Linked DNA regions of Homo sapiens: regions 2 and 3 are each linked to region 1. Evidence: fine-mapped expression QTL. A gene starts in region 1. Each other region holds a variant in brackets. All regions are shown on one strand. Distances are between the middles of the regions. Region 1 holds the start of LINC02705 (long intergenic non-protein coding RNA 2705). Region 2 has its middle 30 kb from the start of LINC02705. Region 3 has its middle 7.4 kb from the start of MS4A2.

What was found. PIP is the estimated chance that this variant, and not a neighbour inherited with it, causes the effect. A credible set is the group of variants that fine-mapping cannot tell apart.
Region 2: its variant is the best candidate, but not a certain one, in a credible set for the expression of LINC02705 in whole blood (INTERVAL, PIP 0.66).
Region 3: its variant is the best candidate, but not a certain one, in a credible set for the expression of LINC02705 in whole blood (TOPMed, PIP 0.63).

Annotation. Positions count from the first base shown.
Region 1 is chr11:60,162,506-60,166,757 of GRCh38, forward strand. It overlaps LINC02705 (long intergenic non-protein coding RNA 2705), which reads right to left and starts at 1,895. Exons shown (of 4, transcript XR_950142.1): 1 at 1-1,895.
Region 2 is chr11:60,131,893-60,136,144 of GRCh38, forward strand. No RefSeq gene overlaps it. Among named protein-coding and RNA genes, the nearest start is that of LINC02705, 30 kb to the right of the region's middle. The variant T/C (reference allele first, on the strand shown) is at 2,231.
Region 3 is chr11:60,079,164-60,083,415 of GRCh38, forward strand. It overlaps the pseudogene YWHAZP9. Among named protein-coding and RNA genes, the nearest start is that of MS4A2, 7.4 kb to the right of the region's middle. The variant A/G (reference allele first, on the strand shown) is at 1,730.

The DNA.
Region 1 (4,252 bases):
TGTATTTTATAAAATCCTTATTGTGTATCTTATCACATAACAGTTGTAATTATTTAATATACTTTCCCGACTATTACTTCTGTTTTTTTGAAAAACTCTCCTCCCGGTTCATGTGATTTCATTAGACTTGTAACCCCAGGTATGACAAAGTCTTTTCTTATGCCACAGTAACTGGACTGCTCTATTTTCTCATCCTTGTAAAATGGTAACTCCTTAGTGAATGCTTCAGAAGTTTCCAAAAATTCAAGAAAAATACCATATTGTTGGCAAATGTTAATTTATTGTGTATCATATTTAAGGCAGTAGGAAAAATGTTTCATAGAACCAAAAGATTGACATCATGTAAACAAACAAACAAAAATCAGTTTGCTACTAACACTTTCCCAATCCACTCTCTCATCTTGGTATTTTTTTCTTTTTCTTTTTCTTTTTTTTTTGCCAAGGACTTCTTAAAATCTTTTCAGGATTTTTCTTATAAAATATTTTGTAATATTTGAAACAAAACAATAAGCCTAATAACATCCTGACATCCATTAACATTTAAACAATTCAACTTGGACTCTAAATTCCCTCTACAAATCATGTTAATTCTATGATTCCTCCACAAGAATTTACATAGGTGAATATCTATACACATATGTATGTTTACATATATATGCACATATCTATATACATATATATGTGTCTTTTAACTTACTGATTTTTTTCTCCATTGTAAGCACTTATTTGGATGTTCAAGACACATGATAATAGAAACATTTACTTCCAAGTTTAATTTTGTAAGGCAAAATTCTCATTTTGTTTCTGGACAAAAATATCTTTTGGGCCTTTATATCAGCCTCCTCATATATTTTCTCATTCCAGGGGAGAAACTGGTTTTCATCTGGTTCTGTCGATCAACCAGAAAACTCTTGGATATCCCATTTCAGAGTCAAAGATATTAACATAATGTTCATTACACTATTGTGTGTGTAATTGGTTAAATTACAGCATAATTTTCTCTTTCTTTGCAACAGAATTGTGTTTTTGCCATGGAAAACATGTTCCCAATTAAGTGTGGTGACTGGAGGCCACTCATTGGTAAATTACAGATGTCACTTTATACCTGGATATATATATGTGTGTGTGTGTGTGTGTGTGTGTGTGAGCATGCATGTGTATATATACATATATATGTGTATCTTTATATGTGTGTGTGTGTGTGTATATATATATGTATATATCTCCCAGATATCACTAGATAGGCTTTTACCAAAAACAAAACAAAACAACTGCAGGATGTCATTTTACAGCACTTTCAACTATCTCCATGGATACAATATGATGTTGTTTCTCTGTCCAGTCCCAGCTAGATGCAACACAAGGAAAACTAGTTATCCATGGCACATGGACCAGACCATTAAAGAACAATGGTAAAGACACCACTTTCCACAATACCCTTCCGTGAGTTAGTCTCACTGTCGCTTTTGCATAGATGCATGTCCCTGTTACAGACTTGTCCACTGACTCTCAAAGACATTAGCTTTCATATCCAGCATTCAGCAGTTCTTCCGAAATGAGGATACAAGGCAAGTGTTGATGATGGTTATGCTCTAGTGTCCTAATTATTCCCTTCATTTACACCTCTATTGTTTTTCCTGGCTGACTTGCTGCTATTTCCACTTCCCTGGAGTAGTGCTAGCTCTACACCTATTTAGGTTAGCAAGTCCTGTTCACTCTTATAAGGTGTCTTTGGGGATAGATTTGTTAGGGTGTAACTCAGCACAGTAACCCCACAGAGGGTTCTAATTTCCCCTCAGATATGTGGTCTTGTGGTATTTCTATAATGTGTTATATTTCTAGATTTTTATGTGTATTTCCAGAAAAAAAAAACCCGTCTCTACTAAAAATACAAAAACAAGTTAGCCGGGCATGGTGGCGGGCACCTGTGGTCCCAGCTACTCAGGAGGCTGAGGCAGGAGAATGGTGCAAACCCAGGAGGCAGAGCTCGCAGTGAGCGGACATCGTGCCACTGCACTCCAGCCTGGGTCTGTCTCAAAAAAAAAAAAAAAAAAAACAAAAAAAGAAATTACCAGTAAACAGAGAGCCTAAGAATGAGAAAAAGTACTCACAAACTATACATCTGCCAAAGGTCTAATATCCAGCTTCTACAAGGATCTTAAGCAAAAACCAAAAAAAAAAAAAAAAAAAAAATCCAATTAAAAATGGGAAAAGGACATGCACAGACACTTTTCAAAAGAAGACATACAAGCAACCAACAAATATGAAAAAATGTTCAACATCATGAATCATCAGAGAAATGCAAATCAAAACCACAATAAGATACCATCTTACACCAGTCATAAAGGCTATCACTAAAAAGTCACAGAACAACAGATGCCGACAAGGCTGTGGAGAAAAGAGAACACTTACACACTGTTGGTGGGAATGGAAACTGGTTCAGCCACTGTGGAAAGCAGTGTGGTGATTCCTAGAAGACCTAAAAACACAACTACCATTTGACTCAGCAATCCTGTTACTGGGTTTTCCCAAAGGAAAATAATTCATTCTATCAAAAAGACACATGCACACATATGTTCATTGCAGTGCTACTCATGATAGCAAAGACATGGAATCAACCTAGGGGCCTGTCCATGGTGGATTGGATAAAGGAATTGTGGTACATATAAAACATGGAATACTATGCGATCATAAAAAACAATGAAAGCTTGTCCTTGGCAGCAACATGGATGGAACTGGAGGCCATTATCCTAAGCAAATGAACGGAAGAACAGAAAACCAAATACTGCATTGTTTTCACTAGCAAGTGGGAGCTAAATATTGAATACATATGAATGTAAAGATGGGAACAATAGACATTGAGGACCACTCACTCGATGGGGAAGGGAGGGAGAGGGGAACAGGTTGAAGAGCCCCTGTTGGGTACTATGCTTACTGCCTGGGTGATGGGATTTTTGGGACCTCAAGCCTCAGCATCATGTAATGTACCCATGTAACAAACCTGCACGTGTACTCTTTAATGTAATGCTGATGCTGATTATGCATTTGATTTCCCACCTTTCAACCCCACAACTTCTCAAGGAACCAGGAAACAGGGTACCATTTTAAAACTTCCAAATTTGTGAAAATAGAAATAAATTTATTACTTGAATTAAGTTCTTTTTCATCAGCTCATGTCACACCAAATCTTTCATGGGACAAAAAGAAACCCACGTTGGTTATGACTCATTGCCTCACCACATGTCTACTGACAATGAGCTCCCAGCCAGTGTCGGCCAGGACACAGTTGTTATTTTTCTTCTATTTTCTGCAATAACAACATCAAAAAAGGCAGTATGTTACCAAGAATAATAGTACCCAAAGTTATCCACATCCTACTCCCTGGAATCTGAGAGTATGCTATGATATCTGGCAAATGATTTTAAAAGTTACAGATAGAATCAAGTTTGCTAAGCAGTTGATCTTAACACAGAGTTTATCCTGGAGAATTATGGCAATTCTAATGTAATAATAAGAGTCCTTATAAGTGGAGAACCTTTCCCAGGTAAGTCTAAGAGAGAATTGAGGATAGAAGAATAGTCAGAGGTGCAACATGAGAAGGACATGATCTGCCACTGCCAGCCTTGAAAAAGCCCATGAGTCAATGAATGAGACAGCCTCAAGGAGCTAGAAAAGGCAAGGTCATGGATTTTTTTCCCTAGAAGCTCCAGAGAGGAAAGTAGTTCTGTAGATAACTTGATTTTTAGCCCAGTGAGACCAGTGTTGTATCCTGACCCACAGAACTCTAAGATAAAATTGTATTGTTTTAAGTCACAAAGCTTGTGGTAATTTGTTACAGGCACAATAGAAAACTAATATAAGCAGTGTGATAATGAGAAATTATAAATCACTCTCCCTCATATATATAGATGTAAGAAACTGAAAAATAAAAGTGGCAAATAGAATAGGAAGATGTATTTTTAAAGCATTTGGTCATGGCCAAATTGAACTCATTCCAGTTATTCATATATAATTTGACAATAGAAAATCTTCGAAAATCACTTACTGCAGAAACACATCAAATAAGAAAAAAAGACTTTGTTAATCTCAACAGAGGTATGCAGACAAAGCTTTTGATAAAAATCGATATATACAATTTTTTAAAGAAATTCATGGAGAAGTATGGCCATTTTAACAATATTGATTATTTCTATCCATGAGCATGAACTGTTTTTTCATTTGTTCATGTCGTCTCTGATTTCTTTCAGCAGTG
Region 2 (4,252 bases), 31 kb before region 1:
CTGTTGTAGTATCAGGGATACCTGGTGTTCTTTGTGGGCCTCGGGAGACAAAACAACTTTACTTTGAATTGCAGTGCTTTAGAAAACAAGGTACTACTGCAGATATAACTTTTGAGGAGGAAGAGGGCTGATGACTGATTGGTAATGAAGATGTTAAAATAAGTATTAATTCAAAATCCAAGCTGTTGAAACTCTAAATTGTTTTGAGCCTTAAAGGAATGTGATTATGGAGTCTGAGTCATGTGACAGACAGCTGTAACCTAGGCAGCTATAAACTTTGTTACTCTGATTATAGATTAGCCTCGTTCCTTACCTTCACTGCTTCGTAAAATGTTGAAAATGACTAAAGGGCACCAGGAAAACCTCTTTCCCCCTTCACTGTTGATCTTCATTATAGTTTAGTTTTTTTCTTACATTTCTTACACAAAGATATGGCTATCACACTGTTTTAAGATGGAATATTAAATATGCTGTTTTAAATTGGAAAGGATATAAAAACCAGCTGTAAATTAAAGAAAACAAGCCCTATGAAAAAGAAAGCAAACCGTAATAATTAAATTTTTGTAACTCATAAACCAGCCTTGTATAGAAAAATTATACTAAACTTGTTTGTTTTCTGCCTATATAAGCGAGATGTTAACTTTTCACTTCAGAACACTGACCCCATTTATCTGAAGTCTGTTGTCTTCTGAATGACCATCCTCAACTTTTTGCTTGAACAAATTTTAAAAACTGGATTGCGATCCTTTTGCTTATTTCAGGTTAACAAAGACTAGTTTTCTCTCACACATAATCACTCAGTATTTTCACTTCTACTCCTGCACTCAAGTCTTGTCAGAAAAGGATATTAAAAAATAAGTAAAAGTCTGTATCTAATAACACCTCTCAGATTTATAACAGTATCTTCAGGCAACAATTGAAAGTTTGAGGTTTTCTAAATCATTTATCAATATTAGTTCACTCCTGTATATACATGATCCTTCCATCCAGGCATCAGAGTTGTCTGTTAGTTCAACAGAGATAAGAAAAAGACAAATAGGCCATGGTTAGGCCCAGAAGAATAAGCAAGATACAGTGGGAGCAAAAAGAAAGATTTAGAAGAGGGCTTCTCAAGAAAACACATAATTAAGACTTCTTCAGGTAAACATTTCAAATAGTGCTTGATATGGTTTGGCTGTGTCCCCACCCAAATCTCACCTTGAATTATAGTAATCCCCATGTGTTAAGGGCGGGGACAGGTGGAGATAACTGAATCATGGGGGCAGTTTTCCCCCATACTGTTCTCATGGTAGTGAATAAGTCTCATGAGATCTGATGGTTCTATAAATGGGAATTCCCCTACACAAGCTCTCTCTTGCTTGCCATCATATAAGATGTCCCTTTGTTCTTCCTTCATCTTCTGCCCAGATTGTGAGGCCTCCCCAGACATGTGGAACTGTGAGTGCTTTAAACCTCTTTCCCTTATAGATTACCCAGTCTTGAGTATGTCTTTATTAGTAGCTGAGAAAAGACTAATACAGTAAATTGGCACCGGGTAGTGGGGTGCTGCTGTAAAGATAACCCAGAATGTGGAATTGACTTTGGAACTGAGTAACAGGCAGAGGCTGGAACAGTTTGGAGGGCTCAGAAGAAGATAGAAAAATGTGGGAAAGTTTGGAACTTTCTAGAGACTTGTTGAATGATTTTGACCAAAATGCTGATAGTGATATGGACAATGAAGTCCAGGTTGAGGTGGTCTCAGATGGAGATGAGGAACTTGTTGGGAACTGGAGAAAAGGTGACTTGTTATGCTTTAGCAAAAAGACTGGCAGAATTTTGCCTCTTCCCTAGAGATTTGTGGCACTTTGAACTTAAGAGAGATGATTTAGGCATATGGCAGAATAAATTTCTAAGCAGCAAAGCATTCAAGAGGTGTCTTGGGTACCAATGAAAGCATTCAGTTTTATTCATTCACAAAGATATGGTTTGGAGTTGGAACTTATGTTGAAAAGGGAAGCAGAGCATAAAGGTTTGGAAAATTTGCAGCCTGACAATGCAGTAGAAAATAATAAAAAAACAACAACAATTTTCTGGGGAGAAATTCAAGCTGGCTGCAGAAATTTGCATAAGTAAGGAGGAGCCAAATGTTAATTGCCAAGACAATGGGGAAAATGACTCCAGGGCATGTCAGAGGTCTTCACAGCAGCCCCTCCCATTACAGGCCCAGGAGCCTAGGAGGAAAAAATGGTAC[T/C]CTGTGCCAGGCCCAGGGCCTTGCTGTTTTGTGCATTCTCCAGACTTGGTCCCTTGCATCCCAGCCATAGCTAAAATGGGCCAATGTGCAGCTCAGGTCGTTGCTTCAGAGAGTACAAGCACCAAGCCTTGGTGGCTTACACATGGTGTTGGGTCTGCAAGTGCACAGAAGTCAAGAATTGAGATTGTATAGAAATGCCTGGATGTCCAGGCAGAGGGGTGTTGCAGGGCTGGAGCCATCATGGAGAACCTCTGCTAGGGCAATGTGGAAGGGAAATGTGGGGTATGAGCCCCCACACAGAGTCCCCACTGGAGCACTGCCTAATGGAGCTGTGAGAAGACGGCCACCATCCTCCAGACTCCAGAATGGTAGATGCACTGACAGCTTGCACTGTATGCCTGGAAAAGCTGCAGACACTCAACGCCAGCCCATGAAAGCAGCCAGGAGGGTGGCCATACACTGCAAAGCCACAGAGGCAGAGCTTCTCAAGGCCATGGGAGCCCACTTCTTGCATCAGCATGACCTAGATGTGAGACATAGAGTCAAAGGAGATCATTTTGGAACTTTAAGGTTTAATGTCTATGCTGTTGGATTTCAGACTTGCATGAGGCCTGCAGCCCTTTTGTTTTGGACAGTTTCTCCCATGTAGAATGGGTGTATTTATCCAATGCCTGTACCTCCGTTGTATCTAAGAAGTAACTAACTTGCTTTTGATTTTACAGGCTCAGAGCAGAAGGAACTTGCCGCATCTCAGATGAGACTTGGACTTGGACTTTTGGCTTAATGATGGAATGAGTTAAGAATTTAGGGGACTGTGAGGAAGGCATGACTGGTTTTGAAATGTGAGGACATGAGATTTGGGAGGGGTCAGGGATGGAATGATATGGTTTGGCTCTGTCCCCACCCAAGTCTCACTTTGAATTGTAATAATCCCCACATATTATTATTATTAATATTATTTAATAGATATGGTTTCTGCTTGAGGTGGAAAAAAAGGTTTTGAATATAGTGATGGTTATGCAAAATTGTGAATGTAATTAATGCCACTAAATTGCACACTTAACAATAATAAAATGATAAAAAGGGCATAAGGCCAGCATTAGACTAATACTTATGAATTTATTCTTTAAAACCTGAAATGTGAAAATTAAATATAGAATGTTTTCATATTTTAAAAAAGTATCTGATTCAGTGAGAGCAGTTCTCTGAAAGAAAACTTATAGCCATAAATACCTATATTAAAAAAAGAAAAAAATTTCTCAAATGACCTAACTTGACATCCTGGAAACTAGAAAAAGAACAAATTAATCACAAAACTAATAAAAGGAAGGAAATAATAAAAATTAGACTATAGATGTATGTAATAGAAAATAAAATATTAGAGAAAATCAACAAAACCAAAACTTGGTTCTTCAATAGATCAACAATATTGACATTTCAACTAGACTGATAGAGATAGACAATGCAAAAAAATAATAAAATCAGAAAAGAAAATGAGACATATCTACCTATCTTACAGAAATAAAAAGGATTATAAGAGGAGGCATTATCAAGATGGTTGACTAGAGGTGTCCAATATGTGTTTCTTCTGCAAGGAAGGAACAAAACAACATATAAATAATTGTTTTATAGGTAGAGTGACTAAGGGCCAACACTGGAATTCAGCAAGGAAGGGATAAAAAAGCCTCTGAAGAATACACACTTGGGATGGCAGCATAGAGTGGGAAGTAAAGCATCTTGCCAGGATTGGTCTGAAGCCAGTAGGAATACTCCATTGTGAAAAAAAGTAAGCTGGAGATCCCCAGTAGTTCCTATTACCACAGCAGATGCTTGCAATCATAGCTTCAGGAGAGCCCTGCAGCCCTCACAGGCCCTGAACCTAATATAGGAAGTTTCCTGAATATCATGCAGCTGTATTGCTACAGACAGAAAACTCACATTGTGTCCTTCAACTCCCTGAGACCCAAGCTGCTGTGGCACAGTACGATTTTGAGAATATAGTTATTGCTGGAGTGTGTCCTG
Region 3 (4,252 bases), 83 kb before region 1:
GCAGTAAAAGCGAATTGCTTGATAGTCATTACTTCATGTACATCAAGCAAATCAGTAAAATTAAAAAAAAAGTATTTAATTGTTAAAGTGTTTTTTCTTTTATGCCTTTTTTTGATACTTGCCTCACATGCATGTACTGTAAAAGTAGTTAACAGAGAAGTAACTGGACATGATGCACAGTTTTGTTTCATATCTTATGAAATTTTTATGGACAATCCAACATAATTGTTAATAACACATGTATTATGTTCATGTAAGTGGAATAAACGCTGTATAAATAGACTTTCCAGCTGCTTTCTCTATAGCTTTTCATGTAAATTAGTCTTTTGATTCTGAAATTTCTCTAAAGGAAATTGTCCATTTTTTGAAATTTATTCCTCATTCTCCCTTGGCAGTTAATGAAATTTTACCAAGTTTAAACACAAAATTTATCATAGCAAAAATACTACTAACATAACTACTGTTTGCAGCCATGCCCCATGTTCCCCTCTGCTCCTCCTCACCCTGAAAAAAATGAGTTTCTGTTTTTTCTAGTGGAAGGGGATTGATTGGAAAAAAGTAATATGTTCCTTTTTAAATTTTAATATACAGCATTTTCTAACTTAGGAAGCCACAATGTTCTTGGTCCATCATGACATTGGGTAGCATTAACTGTAAGTTTTGGGCTTCCAAATCACTTTTGATTTTTTAAGAATAATTTATAGATACTATTATAGGCTGCCTTTGATTTTGATCCTTTATTCTTTCTATTTTTCAGGAGCACAAGATTACCTTCCTTTTTTAGCCTTCTCTCTTGTCACCAACCATTCCTACTTGGTGGCCGTTTACTTGGAAAAAGGCCGCATGATCTGTCTGGCTCCACTCAGTGTTTAAAACACTCTGCTTCCTTTGCCTGCATCCCATAAACTATTTCCCTCATCCTATTTACTGCAACAAACCTCTCCTTAGTTTGTGTTTATCTCTCTTTAAACCTTATCTATCCTGAATATTCTGTCATTGTCTGCCTTTAAAATCCTTCCTCTTTCTCTTCCTCTATTCTCTAAATAATGATGGGGTAAAGTTATATCCAAAGTTCGCTCTACAGAATATTTTCTCAATACTCTGCAGAAAACACCAAACCAACCATTTTAAAAGAGGCATTTTTTTGTTTTGTTTTGTTTTTTTAGAATGTAATCTCCTCAAGAGCAGGGACAATGTTGTCTCTATGTTCTATTGTGCCTCACACATTGTAAATGCTCAATAAATATTGATGACAGGAGGCATTGAGTCCTGATTATAAGGGTGAGAAATTGAAATCCCAAACACTGTTTTGTTGCTTGTTTTATTATGACCTTAGATTAAGTTGGAAAATATTTGTCCTTTTGAATAACTGTCCCAAATATTACATTCAAATAAAAGTCCAATGGAGGAAAAAAAAAAGACTAACAAGTTCTGGGTTTCTAAGGTGATGTGGTTTGGCTGTGTCCCCACCCAAATCTCATCTTGAATTGTAGTTTCCATCATTCCCATGTGTCGTGGGAGGGACCCTGTGGGAGGTAATTGAATCATGGAGGGGGCTGTTCTCATGACACTGAGTGAGTTCTCACAAGATCTGACGGTTTTTTAAGGGGCTTTTCCCTCTTTCCTCAGCACTTCTCCTTCCTGCCCTCATGTGAAGAAGGACATATTTGCTTCCCCTTCTGCCATCATTGTAAGTTTCCCGAGGCCTTCCCAGCCATGTGGAACTGTG[A/G]GTCAATTAAACCTCCCTCCTTTATAAATTGCCCAGTCTCAGGCAGTTCTTTATAGGAGTGTGAGAACAGACTAATACATAAGGTATGACATGGGTGGTGATGGATATGTAAATTAATTTGATTATAGTAGTCATTATACAATGTATATGTTTATCAAGTCATTACATTGTACATCTTAAATATATACAACCTGTGTCAATTACATATTTAAAAGCTGGGGCAGGGGAATAAGCAAACATGGAAACCTCCAGCCAGCCACCCACATTATAACAAAAACAAAAATTGTGGCTAAATAGATACTTGCCATGGAAAATAGTAATGAAAATTTGTAATAGATCATAAATAATAGGACATGCCTGAAAGAGGAAAAGACAAATTGATATTTTATTCAAAATACATTATATTGAGGTATGTGAAAGGTACAGAAAAATGTACAAATAGTGTACAACTTCATAATTTTTTTATTACGGTAAGAACACTTAACATGAGTTAACACTTAACAGTCCTCTTAACAAATTTTTAAATGTACACTACATTATGGACTATAGGTGCAATGTTATACATTATATCTTTAGAGCTTATTCATTTTGCTTGACTGAAACTTTATGACTGCTAATTAGCAACTCTCTATGTCTCTCTCCTAGGGACTGGCAACCATTATTCTACTCTTGGATTCTGTGAATTTGACTATTTACATACCTCATACAAATGAAATCATGCTGTATTTGTCCTTTAGTGACAGGCTTATTTCACTTAGCAAATGTCTTCCAGGTTCATCCATTTTGTTGCAGATGGTAGGATTTCCTTTTTTTAAAAAAAAAAGACTGAATAATATTCCATTGTATGTATTTAACACACATCCATTTATGGATATTTAGGTTGTTTCCACATCTTAGCTATTCTGAATAATGCTTCAATGAACATGGGATCCTGGTATTAATTCTCTTAAATATAGAAAGGTAGGGTTGATGGATCATATGGAAGTTCTATATTTAATTTTTGCTGAAACCTCCAGTTTTTCATAGCTGCTGTGCCATTTTACATTCCCACCAACGGTGTACAAGAATTCCAATTTCTCCACATCCTCGCAAATACTTATTATTTATTTATGTGTTAATAATGGTCATCCTAACAGGTATGATGAGGTGATATCTCATTTTGGCTTTGATTTGCATTTCCCCAATGATTAGTGATGTTGAGAATCTTTTCATCTACCCATTGGCCATATGTATGTCTTTTTTGGAGAAATGTCTGTTCAAGTACTTTGCCTACTTTTTAAATTGGGTTATTGTTTTTGTTTGTTTGATTGTTTAACTACTGAGTTGTAAAAGTTTCTTATATATTTTGGATGTTAATCCCTTATCAGATAGATTATTTGCAAATATTTCTCCCATCCTATAGGTTGTCTCCTCATTTTTTTGATTGTTTCCTTTGCTGTGCAAAAAGTTTTTATTTGATTTATTTCTACTTACCTATTTTTACTTTTGTTTCTTTGCTTTTGGTGTCTTATCCAATACATTATTGCCAACTTCAATGTTACGAAACTCTTCCTCTATGTTTTATTTTATGGGATTTACAATTTTGGGTCTTCTTTACAGTTAATTCTTCAATTCATTTTAAGTTGAATTTTGTATATTGTGTAAGATAAAAATCAATTTCAGTCTATTATGTAGGATATCTAGTTTTCCCGGCACCATTTGTAGAAAAGACTCCTTTTCTCATTCTGTATTGTTGGCAACCTTGTTGATGATCAGTTGACCATATATGTGTGGATTTGTATCTGGGCTCTTTTGTTCTGTAGGTCTTATGCCTGTCTTTATGCCAGCATTATACTGTTTTAATTACTGTTGTTTCTTAATACATTTTGAAATCAGCAGATGTCTCTAGCCTTGTGTTTTCTCAAGATTGTTTTGGCTGTTGGGGCCCTTTGTGGTTTCATGTGAATTTTAGAATTTTTATCAGCTTCTGTAAACAATTCTATTAGCATTTTGATAGAATTTGCTTTGAATCTGTAAATTGTTTTGGGTAGTGCAGAAATTTTAACAATATTAAGCCTTCCAATCCATGAACATGGATGTCTTTTTATTTATTTGTGTTTAATTTCTTTCCTCTGTGTTTCATAGTTTTCAGTGTACAGGTCTTTTACCTCATTAATTAAGTTTATTCATAAGTATTTTATTCTTTTCGATGCTATTTTAGATGAGATTATTTTCTTAATTTTCTTCTCAGGAAGTTTGTTGTTAGTGTATAGCAACACCACTGATTTTTGTATTCTGCTACTTACAGAATTTATTTATTCAAAGTGTATGTGTGTGCACATGTGTGAGTATATGTAGTCTTTAGGATTTTTACATATATGATTATGCCATCTACAAAGAGAGATAATTTTACTTTTACTTTTTTCCAATTTGAATACCTTTTATTTATTTTCCTTGCCTAATTTTTCTTGCTAGGAATTTTAGTACTATGTTGAACAGAAGTGGCAAAAATGGGCATCATTGCCTTGCTCTTTACTTTAAAGA